Linked DNA regions of Homo sapiens. The protein of the gene in region 4 interacts with the protein of the main gene of each other region in a pairwise test. Each region holds a gene or a part of one and is shown on either strand. Other genes may lie near its edges. The genes, in order: DOCK2, SULT1A4, ZNF497 and KHDRBS2.

What was found.
Region 1: the proteins of KHDRBS2 (region 4) and DOCK2 interact in binary tests that used the Homo sapiens proteins (3 or more experiments, as listed by UniProt).
Region 2: the proteins of KHDRBS2 (region 4) and SULT1A4 interact in binary tests that used the Homo sapiens proteins (3 or more experiments, as listed by UniProt).
Region 3: the proteins of KHDRBS2 (region 4) and ZNF497 interact in binary tests that used the Homo sapiens proteins (3 or more experiments, as listed by UniProt).

What each region holds. Positions count from the first base shown.
Region 1 is NC_000005.10:169,709,727-169,717,561, reverse strand, and holds part of DOCK2 (dedicator of cytokinesis protein 2), read right to left. Parts: intron 5,628-7,835; coding exon 5,555-5,627; intron 5,443-5,554; coding exon 5,339-5,442; intron 3,535-5,338; coding exon 3,351-3,534; intron 3,203-3,350; coding exon 3,105-3,202; intron 1,350-3,104; coding exon 1,260-1,349; intron 179-1,259; coding exon 78-178; intron 1-77. UniProt on the Homo sapiens protein: Involved in cytoskeletal rearrangements required for lymphocyte migration in response of chemokines. Activates RAC1 and RAC2, but not CDC42, by functioning as a guanine nucleotide exchange factor (GEF), which exchanges bound GDP for free GTP.
Region 2 is NC_000016.10:29,454,591-29,463,286, reverse strand, and holds the start of SULT1A4 (sulfotransferase 1A4), read right to left. Parts: upstream 3,375-8,696; 5' UTR 3,302-3,374; intron 1,906-3,301; 5' UTR 1,902-1,905; coding exon 1,754-1,901; intron 1,650-1,753; coding exon 1,524-1,649; intron 1,435-1,523; coding exon 1,337-1,434; intron 1-1,336. Other genes in the region: SLX1B (structure-specific endonuclease subunit SLX1), read right to left, coding at 5,163-5,192, 5,272-5,359, 5,528-5,655, 7,402-7,743, 7,838-7,889, 8,357-8,544. UniProt on the Homo sapiens protein: Sulfotransferase that utilizes 3'-phospho-5'-adenylyl sulfate (PAPS) as sulfonate donor to catalyze the sulfate conjugation of phenolic monoamines (neurotransmitters such as dopamine, (R)-adrenaline/epinephrine, (R)-noradrenaline/norepinephrine and serotonin) and phenolic and catechol drugs.
Region 3 is NC_000019.10:58,353,740-58,360,469, reverse strand, and holds the end of ZNF497 (zinc finger protein 497), read left to right. Parts: intron 1-1,884; 5' UTR 1,885-1,981; intron 1,982-2,820; 5' UTR 2,821-2,834; coding exon 2,835-4,331; 3' UTR 4,332-6,113; downstream 6,114-6,730. UniProt on the Homo sapiens protein: May be involved in transcriptional regulation.
Region 4 is NC_000006.12:61,890,719-61,898,553, forward strand, and holds part of KHDRBS2 (KH domain-containing, RNA-binding, signal transduction-associated protein 2), read right to left. Parts: intron 4,116-7,835; coding exon 3,917-4,115; intron 1-3,916. UniProt on the Homo sapiens protein: RNA-binding protein that plays a role in the regulation of alternative splicing and influences mRNA splice site selection and exon inclusion. Binds both poly(A) and poly(U) homopolymers. Phosphorylation by PTK6 inhibits its RNA-binding ability.

The DNA.
Region 1 (7,835 bases), on a different chromosome or scaffold from region 4:
CAAGTTCCTGTGCCCTAGGCATCCTGGCAGGGCAAGAGGGTGGTAGAGAAGAAGTTCCCATGTGCACAATTACTTACTTGTAAGCCAAGGTCGCACTGAAATGCTGTTGGATGTAAGCCTCCAGAACGGTGTTGAAATGCTGAAATTTCCGGTCTGCAATGAGTCCTATTATGTAAATCTGAGGAAGATGCAAGGCAGCAGTATTTTCAGGGCAAACCCAGGGCAGGAAGCCATCTTTACCTGGCATAATTCAACCCCCATTAAAATCCTTTGCCCAGGAATTAGCTCACTAATACATAATGAGTTCTCTTTATTAAGGTAGCATCTTCCCAAAGAAAATGTTTCATGAAGTGTGCTGTGGGGTGTTATAAGATGAAAAGGATTTCATGGTCAAATAGGTTTTGAGAAATGTCAGGTTATCATTATTAGACTTTCTTATTGCAAAACTTTTTAGAATCTTTAATATACTTATGTACATTGTGAATCTCTAAAAGGGTCATGCAACATTCAACACTTCCCTAAATTAATTAATCAAAGTATATATTTGTCATGAAACATCTTTTCTGAGAGCTAGCATTCTAGGGTACTCTCTGGGGAAGCACTTGATTAAGCCACAGTTGTCTCTCAGTAACCTCTTTAAAAATGCAAATATCCATGACACAAGGGGTTAACACTTAAAAACTTTGTTGGGCACTGATTCCCTAATGCAGATGTTTCTTGTGTTTATTTTGACATAACACTGAGAAAATCTGAGTCGAGATAGGGAGAGGACAAAAAGACCATAGGGGAGGACTAAAAGAAGGAAGATCTGGATGGTACAGCATCATGAAAAGTTCTGGGTGGGTAGGAGAAATGTAATGATTAGTGAGTTGGAGGAAATGGGGAGAAGAAGGTGAAAGGAAAGCTAAGAAACATTTTTGGTGCTTTACAACCTAGCCAGGGACTAGCTCCCAACATTCATAGAAAGCAGAAGCAATCATTCACAATATCCAGCCTCATGTACCTTCAGCCAGTGTCAATCTGACATCAGCATTTAAAATTCCCCTTTCACCCACAATGCCTCATGCTTTCAAATGAACTGGCAAGAAGCAAAAGGAAATAGCAGCTCATTATTGGTCTTGTTGCCAAACATTACAACACCTCCAAAGAATTCATGAAAAAGGCCATGAGGGCCATGAGGGCCATGAGTTCTCAGTATTTTCACAGTAAGACATACATTAATGCCTGTTGTCACTAGACACTTTTCCCCTCTCTCTTACCAAGGCATCAAAGACGAGGATGTCATATTCATCACTTTGAGAATGCTCCATCATGATGTTGAAGAGGGCATCCAGAGTATCCTGGAGAAACTGGAAGAAATAACAAAGGTTGCACTACTTCAGAAACAAGACAAAGTACAGGTGAACCAGCAATCCCACTCCTAACTATCTATAAGAGAATGAGAGCACACATCCACCACATGTCATGCTCAAAACGTCTAGAGTAGTTTTACTCACGAGAGCCAGAAGTTGGAGGAACCCAACTGCCCATCAACAGCAGAATGGATGCACAGATGGTGGCATGTTCACACTAGAGAATACTACACAGCTGGACTAAAGTGCAAACTACTTCCACAGGCAGAAATGAGGATGATTCTCACAAGCATTATATGCAGTAAAATACATCAGGCACAGAAAGTACACTCTTCACTATTCCATTCTTATGAAATTTGAGAGTAGGCAAAAACCCATCTACAATGATGGTTGTCAGGACAGTGATTACCCCGGGGGACTACTGGCTGAGAAGGGGTATGAGGGAATCTACTATAATGCTAAAAGTGGTCTGTATCCTCTTCTGGGTGGTGAGTACACATGGTGTTTACGTGTGTAAAAATCCATTATGCTATACTCTTAAGATAACTGCTCTGTATCTATTTCATCATATGTATATCATATTTAAATAACAAACTTTTTTAAAAAAAAAAAAAGAAAAAAGAATGCAAGAGGAAGACAACAAAAGCCTCATCTCTTCCATGACTTCTCCAAGCTACCAAAAGGCTATAGACTTTATTAAAGTGGTGTCTTGGGGAGTTACTCTGCCATTGCTGAACGAGGTAGATGGGTCAGTGGTATACATTTACGGCATCTGGAAATTCTGCCACTGCTTCTCCAGGTAGAGGCAATTAAATAAAACTTGATTTTCCTCCCTCCTAAGGGATGGGTCAATATTTCCTATAATCCCTCAAAACACAGAGCTACCATATAAAGATGTTTAATCTCAGAATTTCTAGCTGTATCAAGGAAACAAGATCTCCAGGACCATTGGGAAACACTTGTCCCAATTCATAAGGCTGGAGAGAAGGGTTGCTTTAATTAGATTTGCACTTCAGACGCTTTCTATTCTCCACTACCATGTGGATGCAATAATACATCTGACATTTGCATTGTTTTCTGCTTATTTCACTTAAAATGTAAGCCCTGATGTCTTTCCCTTTCCCGTCTTTAATACATAATGCTCTCCAAGCAGCAGAAACCAAGAATACTTTTTATTTCTAACAATGATCTGTGGGTAGTACTAACAGATCATACTACTATATATATATGTATATATACATATGCACACATATATATGCTCACACACATACATACATATATATGCATATACATATATATCAACATATGACAACAAAAATAATAATTACCATTTATTGAACTTTGTTTTATATGCTTTGGTTTAATTGTTGTGTACTATGTGTAAGAGACTGTTGAGTAAGTTTTAAATATTATCACCTTGAATGCTCATAACAGCCCTGAGAACTATGTCACTTTTATATTATCACATAAAGTTGGCATGTGGGAGAGCTGGGATTTACACCCAGGCTCATCTATTTCCAGAGATTGAGCATAACCATTGTTTTCTGGCACCCAACATTCAGTGCCATTGAACCAAGTCACTCCCCTGGATTTCCCAATAAAGATTCCTCAAGGCAACTCGGGAGAGTGTATCCTACTGTTGGAAGAAAAGTTTCCCCATGTCCTTCAATACCTTGTTTTTCCCCTGAAGCCACCCACATGGAGAGTTCTGTCACTAGTGTAAGAATACAATCAAAATGAAGCCCCACTGACCTTCACCACTTCCTCTCCATCCACAATCTTCAACTTTTCTAAATTCTCCTGTAGCAGTTGAGGCTTCATACGCCACTTCAGCAAACCCAGCAAGCCCACTAAAATAGAGTCCAGACATTCAGAAGTATCATTACTGGCCTAACTGTCCATATCAGGACCTCCTTGGGTCTGCAAGCACATACACACATGTACACACACACGGACACACACACTCCCCACAGACACAACTCTTGATGACCCGATTACCATTCTGAGTGAGCTTTGTGGAGCACACCAGGGTGGAAATGGAGAACACATCCCGGGAGCTGACAGAAAGCCCCCCAACACTGCTGGAGCTCCTGCTCAGCGTGGCCCCCTTGTTTTCCACATGGTGTCGATAAGAAGGAAGGGTCAGGTATGCGCTGGCATCCTCCATCTTCTTGCTGTCCCCCTGGAAACAACACTTGGTTACTGCCCCAAGCCAAGGCTCCATGCCCAATGCCACACAGAGCCTGCAGCAGACAAATTAGACACTGTGAAGTGGGGAGAGTCATAAAGAGTGAAGAAAATCATCAGAGAAGCAATAGACATTGGCTGGTGAGGCAGGACTGTTTTTCCACAATACAGGTAAGAATTCAAAGACACATTAATAGAAAGGGGGTTGATCCACCAGGTGAAAGCTCTGTGAACCTCATTAATGGCAAAATAAAAACGGAATTGAAAATTCCCAGACAGTACATTTTAATTCATCCTTTTTTTGAGACCATAATATCTGCTCACCAGCAAAATAAGGACTCTAGCTTAAAGAGGAATTTAATGGCAAAGGCACTAAGTAAGAGTGTGCTGGGATCTGGACCCTGTTTTGCCATTCACAGGTCTATGCTATCTTGAATACACTATTTTGCCTCTTTGTGTCTCATTTTTTTTTTCATTAGTAAACTGAAGACAATCATCATCCCTACTTCCTAGAATACCTGAGCAGATAATATGGAATAATGCATATAGAATACATAGCAGAGTGATACACACATAAATGAGTGGCATGTTAAAATGAATGACTAGAGGTAGGCATTACAGAAGATAACATTTATCTTACTCCGCACCAGGAGTGAAACCAAGTGTTTTATATGTCTTGGTTCATTTCATTTAAGCCTCATAACAAACATATGAAGCAGACACTGTTATTATCCTCAGTCAAGGAAACTGGGACCTAATGGGGGTAAGTAAAAGAAAATTGACTGCAACTAGGCCTCTGACCCCAAGGAGTTCACATTCTGTCAGGGAAGAAGGGCTTTCAAGCCAAGAATTCTATGTGTGATAAATGAGAAAACAGAGGCTGTACAGAAGAAAGGGGGTTTTCTGGAAAAGTCAGAGAGACTCAGAGAAGAGTACAAGAGTACTATGAGATGAAGCCTTGACGAGGCTGTGTTTGCCATGCATCCCACAGGCAAAAGGGCAATTTCAGCCTACAAGGCTAAGAAAGCCAAGGGCAAGGGTGTGATCCATGTGCTGGCTACTCAACCTTGCTCCACCTCACAGCCATACACTTGCCTCCAGCCAGGTGCTAGTAGATGCATTCTGTTGTCATAAGAGGACATGTGGAAAAGCAGCAGGTAAAAACCAGACAAATGCTCCTCCATGTCTCAAAAACAGTCCAAGTCTCATAATGTAAAAATAAAAATAGTGGACATCTGCACTCCCTTTATAGTTTAGATGGCCATTTTTCATGGGTCATCCTAGTGGGTTGTCATAAATATTGCCACAACTGCTTAAGAAAAAAGAAACTGAGACTCAGGAAAATATGTGAGATGAGTCCAGGCTTAGTCAGCAGCAGGATCAGGACTGCAGGTTTTAATATTTTCCCATTAGCTACAATGCAGCATCTCTCAAATGTTTATTGTACATCCTCTACACATGCCACAGAGGTCCCTACAGAGTCAAGAGTATATAACAGTCATTAACAATAACCTTTCTGTAAATAACAATAACCTTTTCCATGTATTGAGTTCTTCCATGTACTCATCATTGCTATGTTTACATCCACTGTCTCATAATTTTCACAAATATTCACTGAGGGCACAAAGATGAGGAAACAGAGGCCCAGAGAAGTCAAGAGTTTATAAGAGGCCACAAAGTTGGTAAACTCTGGTGTGTGTGATTCTGGGGTCCCTGCTGTTGACCACTAAGCAATTTTGCCATCACCCCCTTTCTTCCTGCACTCCCCTCAGTGCAGAGCTCCTTCCAACTCATGGTACCTTGAGGACAACTAAGTCATGGAATCCATCGTGTAGAGTAGTCCCATCTTCTTTCATCAGCTTCACATAGGACATGGCAAAGTTCTTTTCTCCTTTATCTTTAGCTGGAAATAGCATTGTGGGGTCAGGAAAGAAAATGATACATGGGCCACCCAGCTCTTCCATTCTTCTCCCCTTAGGGGGAGGTGCAGAGATGCCATTCAGTATGGTACTCACATTCCAGAGATGACCGATGTCGAAACATGAATCGCAGATGGATCCTCTGCATGTCTTCAATAGGGACAGCCACCTCAGCAGACAGAAACAGAGCTCAGAACACAATGAGTTAAAGGGCCCTCCCCACTGCACCCCCCTACACACTTCCACAGCAGCCTGACCATTTAACTGAGAGAGCTGCCTGCTGATTTACAACCCATCCATTGAGGCTGATGAACTGTAAATAAATTACAGAAGAACTAGCTATGAAGAGAAAATAAAGTACCAAATGTAATCCATTTGGCAAATTGCATTCCCAGCCAATGAAAAGAGGTCTGTAAATTATAGTGAGGAAAAATGAGTCTCCCCAAATTGATATAAAAGTCACATAACTTTAGCACAGGATTTGATGCACTGCAAACTGCACAATGCACATTTTCCTTACACACTCCAGGAGTTCTGGCAATTGCAGCAGGGCTTAGCAAATTAACAATGGTTGTTAGGGGGTTTGCTTGAGGAATCTCATTTATGCAAATTAATAAAAATGCTTTAATCCAATAATATTTGGAAAAATCCTAGGGCTCATCTCACCCTTGATCAGACACATGTCCAGATGTTTTTGATTCCAAGGACACTGAGCTAAGACAACAACCCACTGGTCACCCAGGCATCCCTGTCCAGTGAATGACCCACTGGTACCACTGATTGTGATGCTTTCAGCCTGGCTCTGTGCTGCCCACCTCCCAAAGTCTCACAGCTCCTCTGCAATCTGAGATTCAGGCCAATGCGGAGAAGGTTAGCTACCTGAGAGAAGGACACTGATTTTAAAAAGGAATACATTTGTACTGTACAGATGCCTATTAAACGCCAAAACAAATGTATACTTGGGGGCACTTTCTGTTGCAGAAAATGAGGCTTGAGCCTGAGGAGGTCCACCATCCTGTCTATGTTTCAGGCAGAGCAAAGGAACTGAGGGTCTCATGGGTAACTGCAGCCAATTCATTCTTTCCCTGAGTGTTGAATGTTCACTAGAAGCTACAATCATGTGGGGTGCTGGCCATGCTGATACAAGGCAGAGTCCTCACACTCAAAGAGCTCATTGTTCCGTGTTACACATGGGGCAATGTGTAACAGCCCTGTGACAAGGGCTAGCAAGGAGATACAACTGAGGTGCAAGAGAGAACAGAGAAGGGAAACCTGACCTGGTACATTAACTTTCTGACCACAGAGTTGACCGGGTCATCAATTCGAAGGCATTGGGTATGGGGAGACACACTGAGCAAAGTAATAATATGTGTAATAAGTGGAGAACCGCTGGGGTTTGAATAGCTCTCACTGAAAAGGAAGTCAAGTGTGCATCTTGTGTTTGGAGTCAGAGCCCGGGGGGAATAAAGAATGCTGCTAATGATAAGGCAGAGATATCTGAAGCTATGATCAAGCTGCAGTGTTCACTGAATTAATTCCAAATCCTTATTCCAATGCAGGTTATTCCTTTCTGCTTAGTGTGACGATCTGGTAATGTAATATTTGTAGTTAATGTCACTTCTGTCAAGGAATTATTCCAAAAGGGCATCTTTCAGGCATTATACAGCCTGTGATAGGCTCACATTGGCTTGCAAGCTCTGTCACTCCTCATTGCTGAGTAGAATGGTGCAGCTTGATGAACTGGGCACCACCCACAAGAGGACTATTTGACAATTCCACTTTGGTTACATCCTGCACCAAGGAAGGGTGATCAAGGGAACCAGGGTGCTCACCCACCTGGCCTCCATTTCCACTGGCTGACAATACCACCAGACACATGCTAGGGGGTCATTTCAGATTCAGAGAGGTGCCTCCAAGGACCCTAAGCTCTTACAGATGGTGACTTCTGCTATAAACTAGAGCTAAAGAAGTTTTTCTGTCACTCTATGTCCCTCCAGTATGTTCATGACTGGCCTCAGAATTGAGTTAGATATTTCATGAAGAGAAACATAATATATTCTCATATGTTGTTCACAATCACATTGATCCATCAAGCCTCCCACCTGCTTTGGCTAAAACAAAGAATTTCTAAAATATGTTCAACAGAATCCTAGCCCCAGGATATGACACTAGGAAAAAGGAAAATGCTCGGTAGTCAACGAGTTTTGGGACGTGCTCTGCATTCTTATTTCCTTTTGCAGGTCTGCAGAGCACATTTACATCTCAAGGGCTCTAAGAACTTGACATAAGGAAGCCTTTAACTTCTATATTTGTTCTCAAGTTTCTCACATTTGACCAGGAAATGTTATTTTAATACATTTAACGTATGAATTTTTTT
Region 2 (8,696 bases), on a different chromosome or scaffold from region 4:
CTCATCTGTTGAACTGGCAAAGGAGGAACCTGAGGCTTAGAGGCTGACTTGCTTGAGATCTCACTGCACAGGTAGGGCCAAGCTGGGATCTGAACCCTGCTCGGAAGCCAAAGTCCTGCCTGGTTCCTGAGACCATATTCTATACTAATATAATCTGCACCAATGCCATCATATCCTGATCTGGAGCAAGGCATGCCTGGTCCCCACCAGCTCCCCCTCCTCCGCTGACCTGTGAGCACCCACATGCTGCCTTTCTTAAGTGTGCACTGTAGAGACTCACTATCCTTGCATCAGACCCTCATCAGAGCAAGAGGCAGACAGTGTCCTCTCTCAAGATGTGATGAAGGCTGGGCGTGGTGGCTCATGCCTCTAATCCCGGCACTTTGGGAGGCCAAGGTGGCCAGATCACCTGAGGTCAGGAGTTCAAGACCAGCCTGACCAACATGGTGAAACCCCATCTCTACTAAAAATACAAAATTAGCCGGGCGTGGTGGCAGGTACCTGTAATCCCAGCTCCTTGGGAGGCTGAAGCAGGAGAATTGCTTGAACCCAGGAGGCGGTGGTTGCAGTGAACCGAGATCACACGATTGCGCTCTAGCCTCGGCAACAAGAGTGAAACTGTCTCAAAAAAAAAAAGGGCCAGGCGCGGTGGCTCACGCCTGTAATTCCAGCACTTTGTGAGGTCGAGGCAGGAGGATCACAAGGTCAAGAGTTTGAGATCCACTTGACCAACATGGTGAAACCCCGTCTCTACTAAAAAGAATACAAAAATTAGCCGGGTGTGGTAGCACACGCCTGTAATCCCAGCTACTCAGGAGGCTGAGGCAGGAGAATCACTTGAACTGGGGAGGCGGAGGTTGCAGTGAGCTGAGATCATGCCACTGCACTCCAGCCAGGGTGACAGAGCAAGACTCTGTCTCAAAAAAAAAAAAGATGTGATGAGCCTGGCAGAAGCGAGGAGGCCCTTCCAGAAGAACAGGTACATGGCTGAGAGGGCACCTGAGCCCCCCTTCCTGGCTTTCCTTGCCAGTCAGTGGGAACTTTTTTTTCGTAGAGATGGTTTTGCTGTGTTGCCCAGGCTGGAGTGCAGCAGCAGGATCATCAGGGCTCATTGCAGCTTCCTATTTGCATAAACAGTCCTCCCCGCTGAGCCTCCTAAGTAACTGGGAACAGTCTATGCCACCATACCAGGTTGTTAATTTTATTTTTGTAGAGATGGGATGTCATCTCTACAGCAATGTTGCCCAGGCTGGTCTCCATCTCTCGCCTTCAAGGGATCCTCCCTCCTCAGTCTCAAACTGGGATGACAGGTGTGAACCATTGAGCCCGGCCTCACCTTGACCTTCTGATCCAACAGAGTCTGAGGGAGCAGAGCCAGGGGCAGGTGTGACTTGATGAGCCGTGGGGGCGGTGTGTCTTTCAGAGTCTCCAGCCCTGAGTAGTGGGTCAGGGAAGGTCTGGTGAGCTGAAGCCCCAGCCCTGTCTTCCTCCACTTCCCTTACCCCCAGGACCCAGCCATGCACCTGAGGGTTCCCCTGGATCATTGACCTCAAGGAAGGGCACCCGTACGTAGATGGGAGCCCGGTTACACTTCTCTAGGTCGCCGCCCTGGTAGATCATGTCCAGTATCTGGCTCACCCAGGTGGTGCCTGGAGAGGGAGGGAGATAGGAGGTGAGCAGGCTGAGGGCACGACCTTGCTGACCAAGGTGGGGACTGCCGCCTGGGAGAGGGTGGGTGGCCCTCCTCACTTACCAGACTTGGGGTAGGTGTTGATGAGCAGGTCATCAGGTCGGGCTTGGAAGCTCTGCAGGGGCCCCAGTGCCTCTGCAAAGTACTTGATGAGCGGGACCCCCTTCACGTACTCCAGTGGCGGGCGGGAGGTGTCCTGGATCAGCTCCATGTTCCTGCATCAGGGGCCAGAGCCAGGCCCGTTCCCTTACCACCATCACAACAGCAAGAAAGTGGGATTCTCTCTTTTTTTTTTTTTTTTTGAGATGGAGTCTCACTCTCACCCAAGCTGGAGTGCAGTGTGGCACAATCTCAGCTCACTGCAAACTCCACCTCTTGGGTTCAAGCAATCCTCCCGCCTCGGCATCCCAAGTAGCTGGGATTACAAGCATGTACAACCATGCTCAGCTAATTTTTTTTTTTCTTTAGTAGAGATGGGGTTTCACCATGTTGGCCAGGCTGGTCTAGAACTCCTGGCCTCAAGTGATTTGTCTACCTCAGCCTCCCAAAGTGCTGGGATTACAGGTGTGAGCCAGCACCCAGCTGCCCCTTTGCAGAGTTTTTGCTTTCAGGGAAGTCACTGAGGCCTAGGGAGGCTGAGTGACTTGCCCGCACTCACAAAGTCAGTCAGTGGCGGGGCTGGGGCTGAAACCAGGTCGTTCCCCAGCCTGGCCGCACCTTTCAGTCACCTGCAGAGCTGTTCAAAATCCCAGGGCCTGGGGCATAGTGCAGACCAGTGAAAGCACCCTCGTAGCGCGGGGCCCAGATATCAGGGTGTGTGAAGGTCTCCAGGAGAGTCCAGCTGTGCTGAGGAAGCTCTAGGGCCTGCCTGTGCTGTCTCCCTGCCAGCCAGCGCCCTTTGTCTCACCATTTCCTGCTGGGACCCCCAGCCTCCACCCAGTGCGCTCCTCTCCCCGATGCTCCCCTCCTTGAGCCCCCCTCATGCCCCTCACATGTGGAAACCTCCCAGGCCGGCCAGGTCTGTGATCCACTTGCCTGGCCACAGTCCATCTGGGCTCCAGAACAAACACAGCCCATTGAGCAACTAAGCTGGTACCAGGGGCTAGAGCCTCGTGCGGGAATGAAAACTGATGACTCATCAAAAGGAGGGGCCCAGGCAGGGTGACTCCCGCCTGTAATCCCAGAGCCTTGGGAGGCCAACGGGAAAGGATCCCTTGAGCCCTGGAGTTTGAGACCAACCTGGACAACAAAGCAAGACCTCTCCTCTACAAAAAATATTTTTCAAAATTAGCTGGGTGTGGTGGCTTGCTCTTGTAACCCCAGCTACTCAGGAGGCTGAGGCGGCAGGATTGCCTCAGCCTAGGAATTTGAGGCTGCAGTGGGCCAGGATCCCACTACACTCCAGCCTGGGTGACGGAGCAACACCCTGTCTCAAAAATACACAAAGGAAAAGAAGGAACGCAGGGGGATTCCGGCCAGGCTGGGTTGTCTAATTGAAATGGAATATCCATGGGAAAGGGCAGGGATGGCAGAGGCCTCGGCTTCTAGAATGTTGGAGCCACAAGCTGAGCAGGGTGAAGGTGCCCTGGGCCATTCCAACGTGTCACTCACCTGAGCTCTCGGGAACCTGACCTGTTCTCTCCTTGCCTGCAGGGGCTGAGTATGGGTGTGGTGTAGGGAGTGTAGGGCTGCTCTCTGCCCTGAGGGTTTTGAAGGTCCAGTGTGGGAGGGATCTAAAGTCAGGGCTGGGAACTCCAGGAAGGAAGGGGTGGGGTTGAGGGTGGGGAAGCTTCTCTATTACCCTCCTTACCACCACAGCTCCAGCCAAGCTTGGAGTGATCTGCAAACCCAATATGTGAGTTTAGTGTATAGAAAACACATGAATGAAAGGCAAAAGGGGCCAACATTGGTATTTGGGTTTTTTTTTTTTTGAGCTGTCACTAGGCTCCTGACCTTCCCTCTGAACTCCACCCTGCAGGGCAGGCCAACAGACAAGCTTTCTTTCTTTCTTTTTCTTTTTTTTATATGAGATGGAGACTCGCTCTCTCGCCCAGGCTGCAATGCAGTAGCACGATCTCCGCTCACTGTAACCTCCCCCTCCTGGGTTCAAGCGATTCTTCTGCCTCAGCCTCCCGAGTAGCTGGGATTACAGGTGCACACCACCACATCCGGTTAATTTTTGTATTTTTAGTAGAGACGGGGTTTTGCCATGTTGGCCAGGCTGGTCTCAAACTCCTGAGCTCAGATGATCCGCCCGCCTCGGCCTCCCAAAGTGCTGAGATTACAGGCATGAGCCACCATGCCTGGCCGACAAGCTTTCTCTAATTGACCCAGGCAAGGGAGGTGAGTGAGTGGAGGGGAAAGGTGGGATAGGCCGGCCTGGGAAAAGTCACCTACCTGCTGGCTACAGGCCAGTCTTGAAGGCGGCAGGGGTTCTGGCCCAGTGCAGTCCACAGGCCCCCAGCAGCCCAGGCATTCCAGGCTCTGACCACAAGGCCAGTCTGGAGTGATGTGTGGGGGCAGAGTGAAGGGGCAGAAGTGGAGCAGAGCATGGACATATAGAACAAGAAAGAGGCTGAGCGTGGTGGCTCACGCCTGTAATCCCAGTACTTTGGGAGGTCGATGCAGCAGGATCACCTGAGGTCAGGAGTTCGAGACCAAGCTGGCCAACATGGTGAAACCCTGTCTCTACTAAAAATACAAAAATTAGCTGGGCATGATGGCGGGCACCTGTAATCCTAGCTACTCAGGAGGCTGAGGCAAGAGAATCACTTGAACCCAGGAGGCGGAGGTTTCAGTGAGCCAAGATCACACCACTGCACTCCAGCCTGGGCAACAGAGTGAGACTCTGTCTCAAAAAAAAAAAAAAAAAAAAAAAAAGAAAGAAAGAAAGAACAGAAAGAATAAGAAAGGACAAGGACACTGTAGTCCCATTGCCCTAGGAGCCAGCCCTAGCTTCATGGCTCCTGGGGGACCTCACAGAGCATCAATAGAAGATCCTAGAAGAAAAACAACCCTGGCAGGTGCTTTTCTTTCCCTGGGTTTGAAGGAGGCTCCGTAGACAAGAGACTAGAGGAGATTAAGACTTGGAAGCCACAGGGCCCCGTGGAAGGAGGGCATCCCCCCATCCTCCTTGGTCTTTGTCCTATTTGCATTCAATTTCAAGGTAAGTCTCCCAGGCTTCCAAGAATTGCATGAGCTCAGAGGCAAGTAGGGGAAAGCTGAGGCATGGGGTTTCCAGGCAGAGTAGAAGCTGTTCACGTGCTAGGGCCAGGGGCCCCTCCTGCCTCCTCTGTGCCCCTGAGGAAGCCCCGTGACTGGCAGGACCTTGGGCTACTAGCTCCGCCCCTCCCCTCAGCATCCACCATAAGGCACCCTTGACTCAGACTTTTTATTGTACTCAAGTAAAAACCTGCTGGACCCACAGCAGGTGGCACAGAAAAGAGGTAGGAGGGGGTAAGGACACTGAGGATCAGGTCTCCAGCAGGTCTGTCCAGTGTGCCTGCAGAGGCAAGCAGTGTGGTCACAGGCAGCCCAGGGCAGGGAGTGGGGTAGGGAGCCCGCCACCAAAGCCCACTCACCTCTTCTAATTCTGAGTCTTCTACTTCTTTCTCAGTGTCCATCTGGCACAGCCAGATCAGGTCTCCCCAAAGCAGTGACTTCTCACAGCTACCAAGGAGAGGGGCAGGTAGGAGATACAGAGTCAGATGCCACAAGCCCCCTCCAGTATCCGCCCTGGATGCTGAGATGAGGGCTCAGCTGCCTGGGCCTGGATTGCACAACTGGGCACCCTCTTCCCAGAGGTGGACCAGGCTGGGGCCAGGGGACTGCACTCACCAAGGGCATTGGCCCTCTAGGGGCAGAAGCTGCCCTGGTTCTTCCTGAAGAAACTCCTCTGCCAGGCAGATCACATGGGCCCTTAGCAGGCAGCCAGGGTGGGGGCAACACAAGGGCCCCTCTTCATCCTGACCCAGGCAGCAGGCAGGTAAGAGACAAGGAGGGAGAGGCAGCTGGCAGCAACCCCTCTATGCAGCAGGCACTGTTGCGGGCATTACACAGCTCCATCCCATGAGGCAGGGGTGACTGTTATTTGCATCTTACAAATGAAGAAACTGAGGTGGACAGTTAAAATCCTTGCCCCTAGGACTAAGCTGGTGCAGGTCCTGGGAGCATCAGCAGTGATTGATTGAGTCACAGCCTCACCACTGCAGCCAGACCTGAACTTCCTCACAGCTCAGCAACACCCAGCAGGTCACTGAATGTCCCCAGGGCAAGTCCTCTACTCACTCACAATTACCGGGAGCTCAGTAGAAGGCACCCATCGTCCATTATTTTATTAAATATTTAGGCCGGGCACGGTGGCTCATGCCTGTAATACCAGCATTTTGGGAGGCTTAGGTGGGCAGGATCACCTGAGGTCAGGAGTTTGAGACCAGCCTGGCCAACATGGTTGAAACCCCATCTCTACTAAAAATACAAAAATTAGCCAGGCGCGGTGGCAGGCGCGTGTAATCCCAGCTACTCTGGAGGCTGAGGAAGGAGAATTGCTTGAAACCAGGAGGCAGAGGTTGCAGTGAGCTGAGATCGCGCCACTACACTCCAGCCTGAGCGACAGAGTAAGACTCTGTCTCAAAAAAAAAATAAATAAATAAATAAAAAGAAAATTTCTGGGCCATCGGCTCAGTGCAGGACTTTGTTCTACAGCAGTGATAAGTGCTGCCCTCTGATAGTGCAGTGTGGCAGTTGGGGTGGGAGAGGCTAATGAGATCAAGAAAACACGTAGCATGCCAGACAATAGTAAGTGTTAAGGGAAAGGGGGTGCAGAAAAGTGCACACAAGAATGAGCTGCAGTTCATTACATTGTTTTAGAGACAGGGTCATGTCCAGGCATGGTGGCTCACGCCTATAATCCCAGCACTCTGGGAGGCCGAGGCGGGCAGATCACTTGAGGTCAGGAGTTTGAGACCAGCCTGCCCAACATGGCGAACCCCATCCCTACTAAAAACACAAACATTCGGCAGGTGTGGTGGCACACTTGGGAGGTTGAGATAGGAGAATCGCTTGAACCCAGGAGGCGGAGCTTCCAGTGAGCTGAGATCACTGCACTCCAGCCTCCGCAACAGAGCAAGACTCTGTCTAAAAAAAAAAAAAGGGCCGGGCGCGGTGGCTCATGCCTGTAATCCCAGCACTTTGGGAGGCTGAGGCGGGCGGATCACGAGGCTAGGACATCGAGACCATCCTGGCTAACACGGTGAAACCCCGTCTCTACTAAAAATACAAAAAATTAACCAGGCGTGGTGGCGGGCGCCTGTAGTCCCAGCTACTCGGGAGGCTGAGGCAGGAGAATGGCGTGAACCCAGGAGGCGGAGCTTGCAGTGAGCAGAGATCGCGCCACTGCACTCTAGCCTGGGCGACAGAGCTAGACTCCATCTCAAAAAAAAAAAAAAAAAAAAGAGGGTCATGCTCTGTCGACCACACTGGAGTGCAGCGGAGTACTGATGGCCTAGGGAAGAACCTTTTCTTTGAAGGGGAAATGGTGAAGGCCCTGAGCAGGGCCTGCTTTGCTCAGGAATGGCCGTAAGTCCTATAGCATCAGCATCTTAGAGATGGGGATAGGGTGGCCAAAGCGTGTCAGTGGGTTTCCCTCAAGAAAGAGCTGGATCCGAAGTCGTCTGGACTCTAGAGCCATCCATTCCTCGGGGGGACCTCACCTGGATGGTCTGGGCGCACAGGGAGCAGCAGGCCCCTGGATCCCCCTGGTCTGGCTCAGGCTCCGCGTCATCAAAGGGACCTGCGCGGCGCCTTGGGGCCGGGGCCTGGGGCGGTGGAGGCCCGAAGGCCAGAGGCACGTGCGGCGGCGGCGGGAGGCAGAGGTCCTGGCGGAGGTCTGGGCGCACCCAGCGCAGCGTGAGCGGGAGGCGAGCCCAGGGCGGTGCGCGCAGCATGTGCGCCAGCACGCGCAGGTGGAAAGCGAAGGCTGTCTCTCCTCGCAGGCGAGGCCCCACGTGCGCCAGGCGGCGCGAGGCGTGCGGGTGCTGCCAAGCCCACTCAAACTGCGGGCGGCGTACAGGGGCATCAGGGCGGCTCGGAGCGAGGGGCGGAACCCAAGCCCTCACCCGGCCGCCGCTGCCCGGTCTCCTTCCTTACCCGAAGGGCGGCCACGGAGGACGGGAAGCCGTGCACGACGAGCACCATCTCCCTGAGGAGGAGAACCGTGATGTCCCTGTCGCAGCCCAGCGCCTCAGCCGCGGGTCCCCTCCAATCCCACCCGAGAGCGGGGTCCTCATTCCCGGCTTCAGCCGAGAAGTGCAGCCCTCTGCACCTGCCCACCTCAGGCCCTGCCTCCAGCCCAGGTACCCACCTGTCCCACCTCCTCTCTCTCCTGCATTCCACCCGACCCCAGCGTGCCCACCAAGAGCCCTATGCTGGAACCCAGCCTGGATCATCACCCCCGCCCCAGCTAGCTCCTTCCCTGAGTTCCGCCGCGGAGATGCCCCGGGCACCGCCTCCCCGTCACGCTCCTCCCCTGCGACAGGCCCCGTCCCCACCACAGACGCCCCGCCTCTGTCACAGTCCTGGCCGGTCCTTCTCAACAGGCCTGTGCCCCGCGGGGTCCGCCTCCTCTGGGACGCCTTCCTCCCGGCACAGAAGGCCTCCCCCTCTCACCAGGGCCCTCGCCCGCTGGTCCGCCAGGCCCCGCCTTTTTTGCGGCCCCCATTGTGCTGCTGGACCCGACGAGCAGTGTTGACAGTGAACCCCACGTAGACGCGGCCCCGGTACCGGGGGTTCAGGCAGTAGAGCAGGTAGACGCCGAAAAAGCGCCCTGGCCTCGCCGCGACCCCCGCGGGACCCATCGGGCCTTGGGGTTCGGGAACCACAGCAGGGGGTTGATTGCCGTGACCTAGGGTCCAGGGGAGGGCTGGATCGCTAGGGCTGCAGGGTGCTTGCTTCGGAACAAGCTCTCGGGGACTATCCGGAGGCAGCCTGCAGGAAGCCGTAGCGCCGG
Region 3 (6,730 bases), on a different chromosome or scaffold from region 4:
TGAGGTGGGAAGATGGCTTGAGCCTGGGAGATGAGATTGCACCACTGCACCCTAGCCTGGATGACAGAGCCAGACCCTGTCAAAAGAAAAAAAAAAAGAAAAAGAAAAAGAAATGGAGTCATACAGTTTTTAAGCTTTTGGGATTGGGTGGTAACTTTTTTAAAAAACATAAATACCATACAATTCATCCTTTTAAAGTGTGTAATTCAGTGGTTTTTGGTATATTCAGTGTTGCACAGTCATCACCACTAATTCCAGAATATTTTCATCACTCCCACGGCTGTATCTCCCATTTCTCTCTTCCCTGCAGATCCTGGCAACCGCTGATCTACTTTCTGTCTCTTACAGACTTATCTGTTCTGGACATTTCACATAAATGGAATAACATAATATGAAGTCTTTTGTGTCTGAATTTTTTCATTTACACTTAGCATAATATTTTCAAGATTCATCCATCTTGTAGTATGTATCAGTATTTATTCTCTTTTTTTTTTTTTTGAGACAGAGTCTCACTTTGTCACCCAGGCTGGAGTGCAGTGGCGCGATCTCGGCTCACTGCAACCTCCACCTCCCGGGTTCAAGCAGTTCTCTGCCTCAGCCTCCCGAGTAGCTGGGATTACAGGCGCCTGCCACCACGCCTGGCTAATTTTTGTATTTTTAGTAGAGACGGGGTTTCACCATGTTGGCCAGGCTGGTCTTGGAATTGCTGACCTCGTGATCCACCCACCTCGGCCTCCCAAAGTGCTAGGACTACAGCCGTCAGCCACCGCACTTGGCCTAACTTAAATTTTTAAAACACTTCCTGGAGGGGACAAACAGGACCCATCTGCTGGTCTGACTCTGGGTGTCCTGTTCACAGTCTCTGTCTTAGTTGTTCTGTGTGTGGGATGAAGGGTGCCAAGGAGACAGGGCAGGGCAGGGACCCTCAAGAAAAGCGGGGAGGCGGGGGGAAGGGATGGTACAAGCAGCCATGGCACCTCAGTGTGTCCCTCAGGCACCTGGACACACAGGTGGGCAAAGATGCTGACACTGGGGGCCAGAAACGCCGATACCCCCATTCTTCCATTTTTACTCAGTCTCAGGTGGTCCCAAGGAGGGGACCTTCGTGGCCTTGCTGTGCTCACAGGCTCACCTTTGTGTTTCCAGCTGCAGAGAAAGTACCCTGGGCCATGCAGCTGCACTCCCCTCCCAGGAAAGGGGCAGGATGGCTGCCCAGATGAGTGAGGCATCAGCCCTGGCCCCCCAGGTCTTCCCGAGTCCACTGGAACTGATGGTGGGTGAGCCCAGCTCCAAGAGCCCTGGCCAGTGCTTCTGGGGGTTCTGCTATGAGAAGGCAGCAGGGCCCCGAGGGGCCCTGGCTCAGCTGCGTGAGCTGTGTTGCCAGTGGCTGATGCCTGAGGCCTGCTCCAAGGAGCAGATGCTGGAGCTCTTGGTGCTGGAGCAGTTATTGGGCACACTGCTCCCAGAGATCCAGGCCTACACGCAGGAGCAGTGGCTAGGCAGCCCTGAGGAGGCCACTGCCCTGGCAGAGCGGCTACAGCAGGAGTCAGCTGGGCCAGGACTCCAGATGAGTGGGGGCTGGTCTGGGGGCTGGGTGTGCTTCCCCTGCTCACGACCCCAGCTGAGCCAGCACTGGGGCCAGTCGTGGGTTGGTGGCTGAGAGGGCCTGGGGGCTGTGGGAAAGTGATGGTGACAGGTGGGAGTTTGGTGGTCTTGGCTTGGACGGCAGAGTCAGAGATCTCCAGTCCACACCTGTGTGCTCCGCATTGTGTCCTGAGAACTGAAGGTGCAGAGAAGGGTGGGTCATGCCACCGCATGCCCCTTGTTTTCTCAGATCTGCTAGGCTGAACACCTCACCCTGCCCTGCTGCCTTCCTGTCCCCAGGTGCCAGCCCCCAGGCCCCAAGAGGAGCTGGTCCCCAGGACAGAGGAGGGAGAGGAGCAAGAGGCTCCCCTGGGCCCCTTCCAGGCCCCACCTCCAGGTATGGCACCATCTACACACTTGTCCCTGCCCTGCCTTGGCAGCGGGGCTGGAGACTACACAAGGATGATAAGGTGCTCAGGGCAAATGAGGATGGGTTTTGCTCGCTGTAGAGACTTCGCTGTGGGAAGGATCGGCTGGACAGGCAGGCATGGCCTTAGGACCAAGGAGGCCCTCCCACCCTTGGCCTCTCTCTCTCTCAGGGATCTGGGCTGCACAGCCACCCCATGCCTTGGACCACCTGGTCTGACCTGCACAGAGGCCTGGTGTGGACATTGCCTGGGTAACAGCCACTGAGATCCTCCAGCCTGGACATGCTGCCCATACTGTGTGGAGGGGACTACCCAGGGATCCGGCCAGGGTGGAGTGGGTGAGGCAGACATAGCTGTGTTTGGGTCAGGCGGTGTCCTCCAGCCTTCAGGAATGGAGACGGGTCCATCGTGTTCCTCACAAACTGGAGTCTCCACCTTCTTGACACTTGGGGCCCCACCCTGTGAAGCAAGGAGAGGAGAGTGGTGCCACAGTAGGGCCAGTGCAGGTGCGTGGGCAACTTTGAGTCCTTCTGCGATGCTGGCGCCCCCTCCCCTCCTGCTGGGCCGGGCCGGGTGTGGGGATGTGCACGTGGCCCTGTCAGGCAGGCCCAGAGTGCTGGCCCATCCCCCGAGTGTCTAGCCCGCCTGCTGGCCTTCCTGCTCCAGGCTCCAGAGGGCATTGGGCATCCAGGGACCTGGAGGAGAAGAGTGGGGGATGACAGCCCACCCACCGTCGTGTCCCCCTCAGGCCCTCTGTCTGGTGTTCTTTGTATTCTCTAAGGTACTTGCCTTTTCTCTCCTGTTTTAGGTCACAGGCGCGAGATGGAGTCCCCAAGAGGGTGGACCCTGCAGGTGGCCCCAGAGGAAGGCCAGGTCCTCTGCAATGTGAAGACTGCCACGAGGGGCCTCTCTGAGGGGGCTGTGTCTGGAGGCTGGGGGGCCTGGGAAAACTCCACGGAGGTTCCGAGGGAGGCAGGGGACGGCCAGCGGCAGCAAGCCACACTGGGGGCGGCGGACGAACAGGGAGGCCCCGGCAGGGAGCTGGGCCCCGCAGACGGTGGGCGGGACGGGGCTGGGCCCAGGAGCGAGCCTGCAGACCGGGCGTTGCGCCCTTCGCCTCTCCCAGAGGAGCCGGGCTGCCGGTGCGGGGAGTGCGGCAAGGCGTTCAGCCAGGGCTCTTACTTGCTGCAGCATCGGCGCGTGCACACAGGCGAGAAGCCGTACACGTGCCCCGAGTGCGGCAAGGCCTTCGCCTGGAGCTCCAACCTCAGCCAGCACCAGCGCATCCACAGCGGCGAGAAGCCCTACGCTTGCAGGGAGTGCGGCAAGGCCTTCCGCGCGCACTCGCAGCTCATCCACCACCAGGAGACACACAGCGGCCTGAAGCCCTTCCGCTGCCCGGACTGCGGCAAGTCCTTCGGCCGAAGCACCACGCTGGTGCAGCACCGACGCACGCACACGGGCGAGAAGCCCTACGAGTGCCCGGAGTGCGGCAAGGCCTTCAGCTGGAACTCCAATTTCCTGGAGCACCGGCGCGTGCACACGGGCGCGCGGCCGCACGCCTGCCGGGACTGTGGCAAGGCCTTCAGCCAGAGCTCCAACCTGGCCGAGCACCTGAAGATCCACGCGGGCGCACGGCCACACGCCTGTCCCGACTGCGGCAAGGCCTTCGTGCGTGTGGCGGGGCTGCGGCAGCACCGGCGCACGCACAGCAGCGAGAAGCCCTTCCCCTGCGCCGAGTGCGGAAAGGCTTTCCGCGAGAGCTCGCAGCTCCTGCAGCACCAGCGCACGCACACTGGTGAGCGGCCCTTCGAGTGCGCCGAGTGCGGCCAGGCTTTCGTCATGGGCTCCTACCTGGCGGAGCACCGGCGCGTGCACACGGGCGAGAAGCCTCATGCGTGCGCCCAGTGCGGCAAGGCCTTCAGCCAGCGCTCCAACCTACTGAGCCACCGGCGCACGCACTCGGGCGCCAAGCCCTTCGCCTGCGCCGACTGCGGCAAGGCCTTCCGCGGCAGTTCCGGCCTGGCGCACCACCGGCTTTCGCACACGGGAGAGCGACCCTTCGCCTGCGCAGAATGCGGCAAGGCCTTCCGCGGCAGCTCCGAGCTGCGCCAGCACCAGCGCCTGCACTCTGGCGAGAGGCCGTTCGTCTGCGCCCACTGCAGCAAGGCCTTCGTGCGCAAGTCGGAGCTCTTAAGCCACCGGCGCACGCACACGGGCGAGAGGCCCTACGCTTGCGGCGAGTGCGGGAAGCCTTTCAGCCACCGTTGCAACCTCAACGAGCACCAGAAGCGGCACGGGGGCCGCGCTGCGCCCTGACCCGAGGACGCCCTGAGCGGGAGGTCGCGGACACACGGCATTGCGGGGTCTCGGGCGTGAGTGCGCTGTCTGCTGGCCCAGACTTTTTCGGGCCGCCGGTGCGGGCGCCCTCCTGCTGGGAGTGCAGGGGCGGCCTTGGGTGTGGAGAACCCTGGCTGCACAGTCCCTTTGACGATAGTCCACCGGCCACCCAGGCCTGTCTGGGGACATGTAGGATGGGCTCTTACCCCAGGGAGGGCGGCAGGCTCCACTTCGGCGAGAGGTTCGTCCATGCAGAGGTGGGCAAGAACTGGGGTCTCCGACAGGTGTGGCTATTTCTTTGAGTTCTCTGGCACTGTCAAAAGCAGCCAACCCACCCCCCAGTCCACATGGTCACCACTGCTGCTACCAGCTGCTCAGTGCAGTGGCCACTGTGTCTCCTAAGGTGCTCGCTTCAGTCAGCACTTCATCTCAGGCAACCACAGGTGACAGTTAAACATGATGAAACCGCATGCTATGGCTTTCTAGTGTCTCATATTCTGTTGGCAAGAAGCTCAGCACTGCATTCCTGACCGAGGTCAGAACCAGATCAATCTCAGAATCTCACCTGTGTAGGTCTGTTTCATGGGACTTTTCTTTTTTGGGGGAGGGGGCAGGGTTTCACTCTGTCACCCAGGCTGGAGTGCAGTGGTGCAATCACTGTTTATTGCAGCCGCGACTTCTTAGGCTCAGGTGATCCTCCCACCTCAGCCTCCCAAGCAGCTGGGATGACAGACTTGCGTCACTACACCTGGCTAATTTTAAAATTTTTTGTAAGGACAGTGTCTCACCATGTTGCCTAGGCGGGTCTCAAAACTCCTGGGCTCAAGTGATCCTCCTGCCTCAGCCTCCCAAAGCGTTGGGATTATAGGCGTGAGCCACCGCACCTGGCCAGGGAACCTTCTTTATACCAAGTACCACACCAGTCAGAGTCAAGTCAGGAAATAGAAACCACACTAGGTATTTCAAACAGAGGGGATATAAGTTAGGGACTGATTGTGCAGGTTTTGCAAGGCTCAGAGAGCAAAAGTGGATGTTGCAGAATCTCAGAGCTGGATACTTGCAGGAAGCTGCTACCACCCTTAGGGCTGGAGAACCCAGGGAAGCTAAGAGGAGGGTGCAACGAGGCTGGTGTTGGGACTGCCAAAGGAAACACAGAATGACAGCTCCATCTCTGCAGACCTCAGATTTGACCAGGCCTCTGGCTGCCTGGGCAGCCTCATTGCCAATGGGCTGAAAGGTTCTGTCACTGTTCAGTGGTCTGACTTCTGAGTTCTGTGCACACCCTGAGCTCTGCTCCTCTGGCCTGGCCACCAGTCCTTGTCTGAGTGCCCCAGGTCTGGTTATGACTTCAGGCCTCAGCACCTGGTTGTCTCTTCTGCAAAGAATGCATTCTCCCCCAGTCCACCCAGAACACACAGCCTCCATCCAGGTACTGGCTCTGAGCAGGACAGAGAGCATGCAGCAGGTGCTCAGCAATATGGAAATGGGACCAAACAGAGGGAGTCTCCACAGCTCCCCGTCCCTCACAGCAGAAGCCAGAGCCGCTGCAGTGCCCAGCTGGTCTTCATCACGTCTATGAGCTCTGCAATCGCTCTGCAGTCGCCTCAACTCCTGGTCTCCTCTGCTCCTTCTCACTGCACCCGCATCTCCCATGTTTGCACTGGCTGTTCCCTCTGCCTGGAATGCTCCTTGCCCAGTTATCCCACTGTCTTCTTTGCATCTGGCACACAGTAGATGCTCAATAAATGCCTGTGGAATGAATGAGTGGGGAGGATGCAGTGCAGGGGGCAGATGAGGGCTAGGCGGTTGCCCTGGGCCCTCACACTCGTAGCGGAGCTAGGCTGGGACACCCAGGGTGGGGACCAGACCTCCCCGGGTGGGAATGACAGGATGTCCATGGAGGCTGAGTGTGAAAGCACCACGGTCTCACCCCTGTCCTGTTCCATCCCAACAGGCTGTGGTGAGGAGAGGGGGAGGCAGGGGAAGCGGGAGGCCTGGCCTCCAGGCAGCAGGCTATAGCCACATGAGTGACCACCAGCAGCTCAGGTAACTGAGCACATGTCACGGGTAGGCCTGGGAAGCGCAGGTCTCAGCTGAATGACCTGGGTGGAAATCCGACTCCAGAGCCGTGGTGGGTCACACCATGCAGAATGAACCAGTGATGGAGAAGGAACCACAGTCCTCAGGAAGAGTGAGGGTGCACCTCCAGACAGCCCATGTGAGGGCAACCGCAGAAAGTCTGAAAAGAGGTGAACCCCACCTTTGGTGTCACATGTGCAGTGTGGTGTGACAGGGAGGGGCTCGCTGGGCTTCAGCCCCGGCACTCTCCACTTGACCTCAGCAGCTCCAGGTAGAGTGGGGAGAACTCAGCGTCTCCT
Region 4 (7,835 bases):
CAAGTCCTTATTTTTCACATACTATGTCTCTGGCAAGAAATGGCAGAACCAGGGCTAGTCCCTGAGTTTTTTTTGAACCTTGTGGGTTTGTTTGCAGAGTAGAATATGATTTCTGTTTCTGGTTTTGCAATTTTAAGATTGTCTAAGGTTTTAAATATTGATAGTTGATGTAGTGAAGATACTTAGATGAACACATTTCACCTGTTCAAGTAGAAGTGGATTTTTACACTTAGTAACATTATTCCTAAAAGGAATACATGCTAAAAATTAATATACTCTTAGGATTAGCTATAAACTATGTTTACTTTATTTTATAGTTAAATTTTGATTATTAACCAGTCCATATGTTTTGAGTGCCCAGTATGTGACAGTAACTATATTTGAAGAGTTTACATTTAAATGAGCAATAATTTACATAAGACATTGAAGAGGACAGCATGTTTATGGATAGTTGAATGAAACAAATACCTAGATCAGGAGATGGACATGCTGGAGAGGTTAAAGGCAAAATAAATCATTTTCATAGTACAATGATCTGGCTTGCATCAGTTAAATTTAATATTTACAGAAGACCATGGTGGATAAGCTTTTTGATGTGCTGCTGGATTCCATTTGCCAGTATTTTACTGAGGATTTTTGCATCGATGTTCATCAGGGATATTGGTCTAAAATTCTCTTTTTTTGTTGTGTCTCTGCCAGGCTTTGGTATCAGGATGATGCTGGCCTCATAAAATGAGTTAGGAAGGATTCCCTCTTTTTCTACTGACTGGAATAGTTTCAGAAGGAATGGTACCAGCTCCTCCTTGTACCTCTGGTAAAATTCGGCTGTGAATCTGTCTGGTCCTGGACTGTTTTTGGGATGCAAGACTGGTTCAACATAAGCAAATCAATAAACATAACCCAGCATATAAACAGAACCAACGACAAAAACCACATGATTATCTCAATAGTTGCAGAAAAGGCCTGTGACAAAATTCAACAACACTTTACGCTAAAAACTCTCAATAAATTAGGTATTGATGGGATATATCTCAAAATAATAAGACCTGTCTATGACAAAACCACAGCCAATATCATACTGAATGGGCAAAAACTGGAAGTATTCCCTTTGAAAACTGGCACAAGACAGGGATGCCCTCTCTCACCACTCCTATTCAACATAGTGTTGGAAGTTCTGGCCAGGGCAGTCAGGAAGGAGAAGGAAATAAAGGGTATTCAATCATGAAAAAAGGAAGTCAAATTGTCCCTGTTTGCAGATGACATGATTGTATATCTAGAAAACCCCATTGTCTCAGTCCAAAATCTCCTTAAGCTAATAAGCAACTTCAGCAAAGTCTCAAGATACAAAATCAATGTGCAAAAATCACAAGCATTCGTATACACCAATAACAGACAAACAGAGAGCCAAATCATGAGTGAACTCCCATTCACAATTGCTTCAAAGAGAATAAAATACCTAGGAATCCAACTTACAAGGGATGTGAAGGACCTCTTCAAGGAGAACTACAAACCACTGCTCAATGAAATAAAAGAGGATACAAACAAATGGAAGAACATTCCATGCTCATGGGTAGGAAGACTCAATATCATGAAAATGGCCATACTGTCCAAGGTAATTTATAGATTCAATGCCATCCCCATCAAGCTACCAATGACTTTATTCACAGAATTGGAAAAAACTACTTTAAAGTTCATATGGAACCAAAAAAGAGCCTGCATTGCCAAGTCAATCCTAAGCCAAAAGAACAAAGCTGGATGCATCATGCTACCTGACTTCAAACTATACTACAAGGCTACAGTAACCAAAACAGCATGGTACTGGTACCAAAACAGAGATACAGACCAATGGAACAGAACAGAGTCCTAAGAAATAATGCCACATATCTACAACTATCTGATCTTTGACAAACCTGAGAAAAACAAGCAATGGGGAAAGGATTCCCTATTTAATAAATGGTGCTGGGAAAACTCGCTAGCCATATGTAGAAAGCTGAAACTGGATCCCTTCCTTACACCTTATACAAAAATTAATTCGAGATGGATTAAAGACTTAAATGTTAGACCTAATACCATAAAAACCCTAGAAGAAAACCTAGGCATTACCATTCAGGACATAGGCATGGGCAAGGACTTCATGTCTAAAACACCAAAAGCAATGGCAACAAAAGCCAAAATTGACAAATGGGACCTAATTAAACTAAAGAGCTTCTGCACAGCAAAAGAAACTACCATCAGAGTGAACAGGCAACTGACAGAATGGGAGAAAATTTTCACAACCTACTCATCTGACTAAGGGCTAATATCCAGAATCTACAATGAACTCCAACAAATTTACAAGAAAAAAACAACCCCATCAACAAGTGGGCAAAGGATATGAACAGACACTTCTCAAAAGAAGACATTTATGCAGCCAAAAGACACATGAAAAAATGCTCATCATCATTGGCCATCAAGGAAACGCAAATCAAAACCACAATGAGATACCATCTCACACCAGTTAGAATGGCAATCATTAAAAAGTCAGGAAACAACAGGTGCTGGAGAGGATGTGGAGAAGTAGGAACACTTTTACACTGTTGGTGCGACTGTAAACTAGTTCAACCATTGTGGAAGTTGGTGTGGCCATTCCTCAGGGATCTAGAACTAGAAATACCATTTGACCCAGCCATCCCATTACTGGGTATATACCCAAAGGGTTATAAAGTATGCTGCTATAAAGACACATGCACACGTATGTTTATTGCGACACTATTCACAATAGCAAAGACTTGGAACCAACCCAAATGTCCAACAATGATAGACTGGATTAAGAAAACGTGGCACATATACACCATGGAATACTATGCAGCCATAAAAAATGATGAGTTCATGTCCTTTGTAGGGACATGGATGAAGCTGGAAACCATCATTCTCAGCAAACTATCGCAAAGACAAAAAACCAAACACCGCATGTTCTCACTCATAGGTGGGAATTGAACAATGGGAACACATGGACACAGGAAGGGGAACATCACACACTGGGGCCTGTTGTGGGGTGAGGGGAGCGGGGAGGGATAGCATTAGGAGATATACCTAATGTAAATGATGAGTTAATGGGTGCAGCACACCAACATGGCATATGTAAACATATGTAACAAACCTGCACGTTGTGCACATGTACCCTAAAACTTAAAGTATAATAATAAAAAAAAAAACATTTACAGAAGACTTCCTATTGTTACACTATTAGTAAATTTTCCCTTTTTACATATTTCACAATCTAGTCGGAGAAATGGACACAAGGACCACAATGTAATTAGTGGAATACTGACAATCAGAACTAAAGGTTAAAAGATGTTTAGATACATAAGATGACCAAAAGATACAGTAGATAGGAAGGGAGGGGGATGCTTGGAAACACTGCATTTTGTCTATTCATTGTATATTTTTTTGAATTTTTTATGCCAATCCACATCTTTAATATGGTGAAAGAAAGAGTCAGGATATATAAATGAAAGACCAGCCACACGGTCTTACAATACTCCCAAAGTTTATAATATAATCATATTATATTTGTTAAATATTTCTGAGTTTTATGCTAATCTTTGTCAAGTTCCAGAAATCTCTGAATACATGGCAATTCACCTTTTGTTTATAATTATTTCTCATTTGAAATCTGATCAAACTTCCTAAGGATAAGTTTGGTTCTTAAAATACAAGCTCTTTAACTAGCACTAACAGTGATGACACCTGTAAAATGAAACCTTTTCTCAAAATGCTCTCATTTAAATGCACTGCTTAAATTCTGTTGTAAATGACATTCGTTTCTGCAACAAACATTACCTGCTATATTCACGGTATATGAACAGTTTGAGACGTAGCTTGTTAACTAATCAATTTAACTCATCCTTACAACTTATTTCTTAAGAGTACTTACATATTCTTCATAAGCTTCATGGGCTGGAGGAGGAGGTGCCCTGTATCCTGGCACTGTTGGTGCCCCCCGGGCTCGAGGGGTAGGGACACCTCTTGCTACAGGTGGCACTGGAAGCGCTCCACGGGTTACAGTGCTTCCCCGAGGGGTGAGAACACCTCGTCCAGGTGGTGGGGGAGGAGGAATGGCACCCCCACGGCCCCTAAGAGAAACAAGTCATGTATAGATGAGAAACAGGTGATGAGAGAAAAGGGCCTATCACAGAAAAAGTTTTCATCTCACAGCCTCCATACAATGAAATAAATACAAATTTCTCTCTCTCTCTCTGTGTGTGTGTGTGTGTATGCATTTAATAGAAATTATATAAGATATAAAGTGTGTTGATATCTATAGAAGACAATAATTGTAAACACTGACTATGATTAGTTCTTATAAAAACCATGTAAAATACTTTGTTATTGTCTTTTATATAACTAAAAACCCAAAGCCAGAAAAAAAAAAAAAACCCAAACAAAAACCCACTCTGAATATAACCCCATTAAATTCCAAATTCTCGAAGAAGACACAAATCAGAGCATCGTCTGATATATGACTCACTGGACCATCTCTGAAACTGAGCGGTTTCAGATGTCTGCATCTCCTTTATGCTGGGGATTACAGATAGTGATGGACAATGCTGTCATTTACCAAAAAAAAAGGTGGCTGCACTTAAATAAAATGTGGGAATCTAACCATAGTGATATCATTCTGTTTACTATAGCTGCTTAAGTTTGAGATTACTTGAAATCACAACTCTTTGTCACTGATTTATCATCATGCCTGTAACCCCCTGAACTGGTGCAGTCCCTGACAGAATATATTTTCTTAACCATAACTATGGTGTTAGAGGAATACTTTAGTATCTGTAATAAAAATAACAGACTGAATACTCTGTATTGCAGTTCTTGATACAAAATTGACTTGCACTAAAAGTGTAAGATCAAATGGTTGTGGCCAATTTTTATGGCATTTTGAAGCCTTTAGAATGGTTGAGTGTTTGTCTGAAGTCTTTGGGCAAAAGAACAGTTATTTCACTTTTTATTTTGTCTGAAAGGTTGGCCTCTAGATAGCACTGCTTTCAGTGGGAACACTAAAGCTTTGGGGAAAAAAATGATGATCATTGAGATGTCAACAATCACAGTATTTGGCTGTAGGCACATATGGGGACATAGGTTATGCTGTCTGCTATGAATAGCAGTCAGATGGCTCTTTCTTGCTTAAAATAAAAGTGAGCATTTATAAGTGAAGGGTACGAATGCTGGCAAAACCTTTAAAATTTTTAAATAGATTACAGAGCTGATGAATAGAGAAATGATGAGAGAATTTATTGTGAGTCTAATGTATAAAGAATACTCTCCTAGATTGGGAGAAGGTGAAACACAAAGACCCAGAGGCCCAGTGCTGGCTGCAAGTACAACATGGCTAAGAATACAGTATTCTGTATTACCATGATAATACATAAAGGGATGTAAAAACCAATTTTGCCTTCACTGCTCCTCCAAGCACATTTCTGTTTCCTCATAAGCAAGATGAGCATATGTCCAGGTTTTATAACTGTTGTCCTAGCTTCCTGTTCAGTTTAGCATTTTAACACTCTCAAAAATATCCATGTGTGGGCAATAAATTATATGGTCACCCTACTCTATTCACGAGCCTTCGCTATACCCTTGAATAGTCATGGGTAAGTATTATAACTACCTAGGCTTAAGATAGATATTTTTTTTTCTAATGAGTAAAATGCAGATTTCTAAATTTATAGTACTTCCTTCTGCTCTAATATTATATGATGCTCATATCAAATCTAATTTTCCATTTTCTTCCTTCATCAACTGACTACCAGACACAGCCCTAGCAAACCTGCCTCCTGAACCTGACTCATTACCTCTTATCCACTATGTTCTTTCCCTGGAATATTAACCTCATTGTTCTCTCCTCCAATTTAATTCAAATCACTTTTTTTAGGATACTGCCCCTGGCTAAAACCACACCACAGTATCCTGTCGTTTATTTGTCTGACTTGCTGAAAGAATATTTTCTGTTTAATTCTTTACTTCCTCTACATTCCTGAACTGAATGTTATCAGTCTAGTTCTTGCTTTCACCCCTCTGTTGAAAATGCTCTTGGCTGAGATCACCAGTAGCCTACTGATTTCCAAATCCACTAGATTTCTTTACAGTCTCCATGCCACAGCACCTTTCTACTATTTTTAAGATTGTGGACTATTATCTGGAAAATGTTTCTTTGGACTTTTATGACTCTGCTTTTCTCTACTTTTCCTCATTCCTCCTTATTCGTTATCCTCCTTCACTGGCTTGTATTCCTGGACCCACTTTGGAATCTGGATGTCCCCAGTTTCTATCCTCGATCTCATGGTTGCACCCTGCAATCCCTACCTCTGATGATGGCTATAATCTGTTTTCTTCCTAACATAATGCCATATCTTGGCTTGTGTTCCTTATATCAGAAGTTTCTTAACTTGCCTGCATGTTAAAGTTACTTGAGGATCTTTTGAAAATTCCAAATTCCAGGCCATACCCTAGGCCAATTAAACCACAATCTCTGGAGACAGGGAGCTCCCAGTGATTCCAAAATACAGGCCAATTTGGGAACCACTGCCTTAAATGAATACTCCAATTTAAGCATCTTGACAAGCTTGTCATGTGGGCAGTTCTAAGTTTTTTAAAAATACATTGAGATATTAAGGCATGGAGAGAACAAGTCACCTGCCCAAGGTCACACCAGCAATCCACAGAGCTCAGATTATTTACAAGAATAATTATATTCTTCATTTAATTTGATCCTTCACCTACTCTTAGTTAATGATATCATCAATTTCTCACCAGGCTAGACACCAAAAATTTATCTTTCTCTTGGGGAACTCTTCTTCTCCAACGTTTAATTGGCATTAATTCATATAAATGTTAATCTCTAATCTGGCCCTATCCCTGTCTATTCCAAATGCTGCTCATTTTTATCTGCCTTGGATGATGGAATTGTTTTCTCATTGGCTCCCCTGCCATAAGACGGTTTCTCTGTCTCTGTCTCTCTCTCTCTCTCTCTCTCTCAATCACTGTAACTCTTCTGCATCAACCACAGTGATAATTGAGTAGTCTTTCGCATAAACAAATATGACTACTCTCCTCTTTAACAAACTCTATTAGTTCTATGTATTCGTTCTCAACGTGGTAAACAAAAGCCTTCAAAATTTACCCCGATGTTTCGTTTTTCAGTGACTGCACTCACTGCAACATATAGTGGTGATGTGTGTTAGAGATGTCATATATTTTCATTCATCAATTATGCAAAATAAATTATTATTACAATATATAGATGTAATGCTTTGTTCTCTGGTATACATTATTATTGGAAAATTAGAGTTATCATAGATAGGATTATTGAAATGTAAATTGTTTTAATTAAATACACTTTCAACAAATTATAGAGCTTAAAATATTCTAGACATCATCTTTTTGAATATAAGTGTAATTAAATAACTTCATAAAGTAATAATTTCATAACAATTCAAATTAGGAATTGTTAACTCATGTTATGCAAAGTTCTCTTATTAATAAGATTTTCTATTTTGTAAAGCTATTTTCTTTTTTTTTGTGGGCATTTGGTATGACCAATCTTTAATTTTCAAGCAATAACAAATATATAGTATCGAGCACTTACTAAATATCCGATACAGTTGTAAATGTCTTTACATGTAATACATTTAATGTTTTATTGTAAGTCTCTAAGTGATTATTGTATTAATTAAATTGTAACATATAATTACATAACATATCCAAGGTCAACATTTTAACTTATTGTTTATCTCATTCATTATGAGATACACAATTATTTTATCTTAACACTATGAGAGAAAACACTGAGTTAA